2 linked regions of the Homo sapiens genome follow. Changing the gene in region 1 together with any one later gene gives a genetic interaction. Each region holds a gene or a part of one and is shown in the gene's direction. Other genes may lie near its edges.

Region 1 (3,812 bases):
GAGGTGGGCCAGGAGAGGGCAGGAGGGGACAGTAAGGTGGTATTTGAGGCCGGGAGTGTAGCCTGGTGTGGCGCTCCCAGACAGCACTCAGTGTGGGGTGAGATAAACAGGGTGGGGGATGTCGGGTTGGGTTTTGAGGGTCACAATGGCCAGGCCCTCCCCTATGGCCATACCAAGCAACCCAGGGCAGGGGTCACATTTTATATCCAAGTACTAGGGACACACGAACCAAGGCATGGCCTTTTCTTACAATTTAAAAAATTGAGATGCAATTCATATAAAATTCATCATTTTATTATACAATGTAGTGTTTTTTAGTACATTGACCGTGTTGTGCAACCCTTACCCCAAAAAGAAACCCCGTCCCCACCGCAGTCACTCCTCTCCCTCTCTCCAGCCCCCGGCAGCCACGGATCTGCGTTCTGTGTCCGTGGATCTGTTCATATGAGTGGAATCTCACAATATGTGGCAACCCTTTGTGACTGGCTTCGTTCAGCCTCATGTTTTCAAGGCTCATCCACGTTGTGGCCCCTGTTGGTGCCTTGTTCCTTTTTACAGCCGAGCCATGTGCTGCTGCGTGGAGATGCCACATGTGTGTCTTTTCATCCGCTCACAAACCAGGCTTGGCTTTTGTGACTTGGCCAAGTTCCCAAAGCCAGCCGGTGGCATCACTGGGACGAGACCCCACAGGCGGTGGGCCTCTGAGCAGGGGGCCACCTGCCGGCCACCCTGGCCTTTGAGGACACAGCCTGGCGGGGGCGGTGCAGGCAAAGGCTTCCTTGAAGCCTTCTGGTCTGACCTGTGGCTGGGATAAGTGAGTAGGCCTGACGGGCTGGCCTCCTTCCTGGAGGGAGTGGCGACACCACCACAGTGCCCTCAGCTCGCGTTTCTGGGCCTGCAGCCCCCACGGGCTCTGGGGGCTTCTGCTTACTGCGCCCCCCTGACCCACAGCATCCGCAGTGTCATGCAGAAGTACCTGGAGGACCGGGGCGAGGTGACCTTTGAGAAGATCTTTTCCCAGAAGCTGGGTGAGTATGGCAGTGGCTCTGCCAGCCACCGGACTTAACTTCTTGCCCCTACCCCAGCCAGCCCAGCTGTGCTCCCCACTCTCCAGAGATTTGGCCTCCCATCCACTCAGGGTGGAGCAGCCAGCGAGACCCCAGGGCTTGCTCCAAGTCGCTGCGACCCTGCGTGCCTCCTTGCCCCTGGCTGTCGGCCCAGGGAGCCCCGTGGTGGGGGTGGGGGCCCAGAGTCTTCCAGGGCCGCCAGGGAAGTTCCTCCTTTGGGGTTTTTGTTTTTGAGAGTTGCAGCTTCCCCTTGGCGCGGCCGCAGCTGCTCTGGGCCGTTGGTAGAACTGACAGGAAGAGGCGGGGCCCTTCCTGTGGCGCCTGCCGAGCTGTGGTTGGCCCCGCCCCACCCCATGGGCCCTCTTTGTAAGCAACCTGCCTGGTGTTGGCCCTCCATTCCTCCTCCAGCTGGTGTCTGATGCCTGCTGTCAGAAGTTTCATGTGACCCACCCTGCGGACCTGGCCCGGAGGGCAGGCTTGGGGCAGGTCTCGGGAAGCAGGCTCCAGCCCCACATGGCTCTGATTTGGCCTTCCCGAGAACAGGAGCTCAGCTCTGGACAGGGGGTATCCTGGCCTGATGGGATCAGGCATTGGGGGTCAGCCTGGGGGAGTCGGTGTGTCAAGAAGCACAAAGTTTGGGTCCCAGGCCTGTGCCTTTTGTCCTTGGGCAAGTTGCTTCACCTCTCTGAGCCTGATGGTGTCCTCATCTGGGAGATGGGACTCATGAGTCCGACTGTGCAGGCCTGTCAGAGTCAGATGGGAGCACTGTGCCCACTGTGAAGCCTGGCCCCCATTCCTCAAAGGCCCTGCACTAAAGGCCAGGCAGTGAGGACTGAAATGATGGCCGCAGCTCTGACCCAGGTGCCCAGGCAGTGCCCCCGAAGGCATGAGAGGCCACCCAGCTCGAGCCTGGTTACCCGTGTCAGACTGGAGGCCTGAGGAGGGCCTCTGTCCCCTGGTAGTGCTCGGGGGCCGGGGTCCAGGGTCCAGGCCCCTTACTCAGGCATGAGGACACCCTATCTGGGGTCCCCTGAGAGCCCCTCCCACAGCCCACCTTGCCTCTCCAGTTCCCTGTGGCTTACACCCGTTCCATGCCCCCTGCCCTGAGGCCCCAGCCCCAACCTCTTTCCCAGGGACCTGCCATTTGGTGGAGTAGCCCTGAGTTCCACTTGAGCCTCTGCCACAGACAGTGTGTCTGACCAGCTCCCTGAGCCCTAGTTTCCCCAACTGGACCCACCCTCCCTGCCTGTTTCTCAGGCTGCTGTGCAAATCAGCCAGACACTGGAGTGGGGCAGGGTCCAGAGGAGTGGTGTGGCCTCAGAGCCCCCTGCTAACCTTTTCCCCATGCTGCAGCCTGACCTGGCCCCGGTGGCCACAGCATCCCAGGGCCCCCAGACTGAATCGTGTTGCACCTGCACAGCCCGCCCCGGTGGGGGGTATCGGCCTCACAGAGCAGGCGCAGGGCCCTGGGCTGCAGTGAGTGGGGGCCCAGGTGCTAAGCCAGGGCTCCCTGATGCCAGAGCCAACCCCGCTCCTCTGCCTCACCCTGGTGCCCATCGCCGTCCAGCTACCACCTGGGGAAACAGATTTCAGGAAGAGGGTAGAAACACAGGGGCCCCAACCCAGAATCCAGGAATCTTCACGTTGGCAGCAGCCTTAGCAGCTGCCTGGCCCACCCCTTGCCTGGGGCCGAGACCACCTTTGCCACCTCCATAGCCAGTTCTGCCCAGGGAGCCCAACCCACACCATCCACAATGATGGGAAGGCCTCTGAGAGAGGCGTGGCTCTGTGACCTTACACTGTTGCCTTCAGGGTACCTGCTCTTCCGAGACTTCTGCCTGAACCACCTGGAGGAGGCCAGGCCCTTGGTGGAATTCTATGAGGAGGTGAGACCCAGAGGCCCAAGCCCTGCTCTGCCTGGAGAAAGGGGAGGAGGTTGGGGCGGCTTTGTGGAACCCACAAGCTGCCTGGTGTGGGCATCCCCATTCCCTGCTGGGCTCTAGATGACCTGCAGGAATCCTGTCCTCCAGATCAAGAAGTACGAGAAGCTGGAGACGGAGGAGGAGCGTGTGGCCCGCAGCCGGGAGATCTTCGACTCATACATCATGAAGGAGCTGCTGGCCTGCTCGCATGTGAGTGTCCTCAGCTGGCCCTGTGTGCTGGCCCAGAGTCACCTGCAGATTGGGAGGGGAAGAGAGGACCCTGCTGAGAATTCATGGCCACCTCTGTCTTCCCCAGCCCTTCTCGAAGAGTGCCACTGAGCATGTCCAAGGCCACCTGGGGAAGAAGCAGGTGCCTCCGGATCTCTTCCAGGTGTGTGCCTCCCGGTCCCTCCCCAGGCAAGGTCACCTTGGACAGCCCCTGGTCAACAAGCCTGGTCAGCCAGGGGTGGGGCCTGGGCAACCACGGTCTCTCGGGGCTCAGTCACCAACTTCCAGCTTCCTCCCTTAGCCATACATCGAAGAGATTTGTCAAAACCTCCGAGGGGACGTGTTCCAGAAATTCATTGAGAGGTGAGAGCAGGGAAGTGTGGGAGAGGAAGGGGGAGGGAGGGGCCGCTCTCAGAAGGGGTATGGCTGGCGTGGAGGGCAGAAGCCAGCCTTCATTAGGCCCTGAGCAGGCAGGTGGCTGGCCCGTCAGCGGCCCCCTTGCAAGGACTCCTGAGAAGTCAGACAGGCTGCAGGTCATCTCCCACCCTGCCCTCCTCAGCACCAGGCAGCTCAAAGCCCATCCCAGGCAGTCTCC
Region 2 (3,500 bases), on another chromosome or scaffold:
CCGCCATGCCCGGCCAACAGTACTTTTCTCTAGAGGTAGAATTGCAGGGGATTTTTCTCTTTTTGCTTATCTGCACTTTTCTAAAAGTTCTGCCATGAACACGGGCATTTTTTGTGGAATAAACAAAGTTTAAATGTTGGCTAGATCAGTGCTTCTTTATGCATAAGGAAGGATTAGTTCTTTTTTTTCTATTTCCAATTTATTGATTCTTTGATAAAATGCAATGCAATAAAATTATTATTTTTTTTTAGAGACGTCTCCCTCTCTCACCCAGGCTGGAGTGCAGTGGTGCAATCATAGCTTACTGCAACCTTGAACTCCTGGGCTCAAGCGATCCTCTTGCTTTAGCCTCCTGAGTAGCTGGGACTACAGGTGTGGACCACCACACCTGGCTGATTTTTAAACTTTTTGTAGATACAGGGTCTCGCCATGTTGCCCAGGCTGGTCTCGAACTCTTGGGCTCAAGCCATCCTGCCACCTCAGCCTCCCAAAGTGCCGGGATTACAGGCGTGAGCCACCATGCCCAGCTAGAAAATTACTTTTTTGGCTAGGCACCGTGGCTCACGCCTGTAATCCCGGCACTTTGGGAGGCTGAGGCAGGCAGATTGCTTGAGCCCAGGAGTTCGAGACCATCCTGGGAAGCATGGCAAGACCTCCATCTCTACAAAAAATTCGAAAATTAGCTGGATGTTGTGGTGCACACCTGCAGTCCCAGCTACTTGGGAGGCTGAGTTGGGAGAAACAGTTGAGCCCGGGAGGTCAAGGCTGCAGTGAGTCGAGATTGCACCACTGCACTCCAGCCTGGGCGACAGAGACCCTGTGTGAAAAAAAAAAAAAGAAGAGAATTTTTTTTAAACAGTCATTGCTTGCTCAGATGTTTACTTTAAAAGATAATAATGAACAAGAAGCAGTCACATAAAATACAAGCCCAAATTTTATATCATTAGATTCTGATTGTCATGAAAGTTTCTAAAGACTTACTTTCATTTCTCAACTTACCTTGTTGACCAGCAGGGATTGGTGAACCATGCTGTGAGTAGCATTGGGCTAGAGAGAGGGGAGGCAGGAATCTAGAAGAGCTGTTTTCCAGATGTGACCATCTCCTGAGGACAGGGACCATGTCTCATGTGCCACCCATCACCCCCCACAGACAGAGCCTGCAGCCAATGCCCCAGGAGCCCTCGGTTCCAACCAACTGATGCCCCTGTGCCCACTGGCCCACGCCATGCAGCCCCAGTCCGTTCTGCACAGCGGCTACTTCCACCCACTACTTCGGGCCTGGCAGACAGCCACCACCACCCTCAATGCCTCCAACCTCATCTACCCCATCTTTGTCACGTGAGTCTCCAAGAATGGGCCAGGCCTCTGCTCTGCTGGTTGGGGTTGGGGTTGGGGAGGGAGTGTTGACTGGAGCGGGCATCAGTATGGCTGGGGGTGGCAAAGTGAGCTGTCAGCTTGAAATTCAAGGCACTGGAAGCAGGCTACTTGGATTAAGGACAGGAATCTTAGGAACAAAACAAACTTTGAAAGAACTCATTCATCCCATTTGGAAAATTAGAAGAATAACCCTTGCCTGCCATCCTGAGCTCTTGCAGTAAGACAGAAGCTGAGAAGGTGCTCTGTACATTGTAAAGTGCTATGTACCTGTAAGAGATGGCAGTCATTGAGGCTGGGCACGGTGGCTCACGCCTGTAATCCCAGCACTTTGGGAGGCTGAGGCAGGCGGATCACGAGGTCAGGAGATCGAGACCATCCTGGCTAATATGGTGAAACCCTGTCTCTACTAAAAACACAAAGAAATTAGCCAGGCGTGGTGGCGGGTGCCTGTAGTCCCAGCTACTTGGGAGGCTGAGGCAGGAGAATGGCGTGAACCCGGGAGGCGGAGCTTGCAGTGAGCCGAGATTGCACCACTTCACTCCAGCCTGGGCGACGGAGCCAGACTCCATCTCAAAAAAAAAAAAAAAAAAAAGAGATGGCAATCGTGATTGTTAATAATAATGCAGACATTTACTGAGTACTTACTATCTACCAGGTACTATGCTAAGCACCTACACACATTATCTCATTCAATTCTGAGAGCATTTGTATGAAGAAGGAGTAGCTATCCTCTAGAACATCAGCTCCATGAGGGCAGGGATGTTTGTCTATTTTGTTCACTGTTGTATCATCAGGGCCTAGAACAGTACTTGGCACATAATAAGTACTCAATAAATATTTGTTGAATGAATGAATTAACCACGCATGATATAGATGAAGGCCTAAGGCTCAAAGAGATGATAGAACTTGGCCACGGTCACCCAGGCAGTAAGTGGCTGGGATAGAAAGCAAGGACCTGCCAAATTCAGAGTCCAAGTTCTTAACCACTTAATTCCTTCCTGTAATTACCGTTCTTTTAGTACAGTTGCTAGTGTTGTCACTGTTATTCTTGTTGTTCCTATTATTATTTCAGGCCCTGGGCTTGGCCAGGCAGGGAAGCCAGACACTGGATCCCATCCTCCTCCCACCATCTCCACTTCCATATTTCTTTCCTGCTTCCCAACCATCCCTCTCAGTCGCCCCCGCACCACTGGCCCTTCCCACAGCTACCAATCCATATCCCACCCCCGCTCTTGCAGGGATGTTCCTGATGACATACAGCCTATCACCAGCCTCCCAGGAGTGGCCAGGTAGGAGACGTGGAGTTGGGGGGCCAGCGGGTGGTGGAGGGAGAGATTCCACAGGTGGAAGTGCTGGGAGGCAGAAGCAGACCTAGGAAGTAGAAGATGCGGACAGACAGACATTAGCTCAGTAGAGGAAAGGGTTTCCCCGGGGCCAGAGCTGTTCCACAGTGGAAGGGGCAGCCCCATAAAGTAAAGAGCTACCCATCACCCGAGACGTCGTGGCAGAGGCTGTTGCAGAAGGGAGCTGAACTGCAGATGGGAGTTCAAAAAGAGGGCCTCGAAGGAGCCTTCCACAGCCGAATTCCGGAGCTCTGCTACTCAGGGCCTCAGTCTTCCCTCCTATTTAGTGGATGCATCCCTGCCCCTTCTGTCCTGGGGGCTTGAGCCCTCCTGGTGCCATATGCAGCTTGGTTTCTAACAGAGGCACACAGTGTGGTGGGGTCCGGAGGACCGTTGCCTGGGACCTGCCTTCCTTCAACCCCTCTACCCACACCCACACAGGTATGGTGTGAAGCGGCTGGAAGAGATGCTGAGGCCCTTGGTGGAAGAGGGCCTACGCTGTGTCTTGATCTTTGGCGTCCCCAGCAGAGTTCCCAAGGTGAAGAATCAAAGGAAGGGCTAAGAAGGGAGGTTGCGCTCACGCCCGTAATCCCAGCACTTTGGGAGGCCAAAGTGGGTGGATCACTTGAGCCCAGGATTTTGAGACCAGCCTGGACAACATGGCAAAACCCATCTCTACAAAAAATACAAAAGTTAGCTGGGTGTGGGGGTATGTGCCTGTAGTCCCAGCTACTCGGGAGGTGGAGAGGTGGGAGGATTGCTTGAGCCCAGAAAGTCGAG

The links.
Region 2: changes in GRK2 (region 1) and ALAD together harm fitness more than expected from each alone (negative genetic interaction), as found in Homo sapiens cells (one large-scale study listed by BioGRID).

The regions. Positions count from the first base shown.
Region 1 is NC_000011.10:67,276,321-67,280,132, forward strand, and holds part of GRK2 (beta-adrenergic receptor kinase 1), read left to right. Parts: intron 1-951; coding exon 952-1,028; intron 1,029-2,879; coding exon 2,880-2,953; intron 2,954-3,097; coding exon 3,098-3,199; intron 3,200-3,305; coding exon 3,306-3,380; intron 3,381-3,518; coding exon 3,519-3,580; intron 3,581-3,812. UniProt on the Homo sapiens protein: Specifically phosphorylates the agonist-occupied form of the beta-adrenergic and closely related receptors, probably inducing a desensitization of them. Key regulator of LPAR1 signaling.
Region 2 is NC_000009.12:113,391,285-113,394,784, reverse strand, and holds part of ALAD (delta-aminolevulinic acid dehydratase), read left to right. Parts: intron 1-1,147; exon of another isoform or gene 1,148-1,150; coding exon of another isoform or gene 1,151-1,225; coding exon 1,226-1,338; intron 1,339-2,449; coding exon of another isoform or gene 2,450-2,615; coding exon 2,616-2,666; intron 2,667-3,161; coding exon 3,162-3,258; intron 3,259-3,500.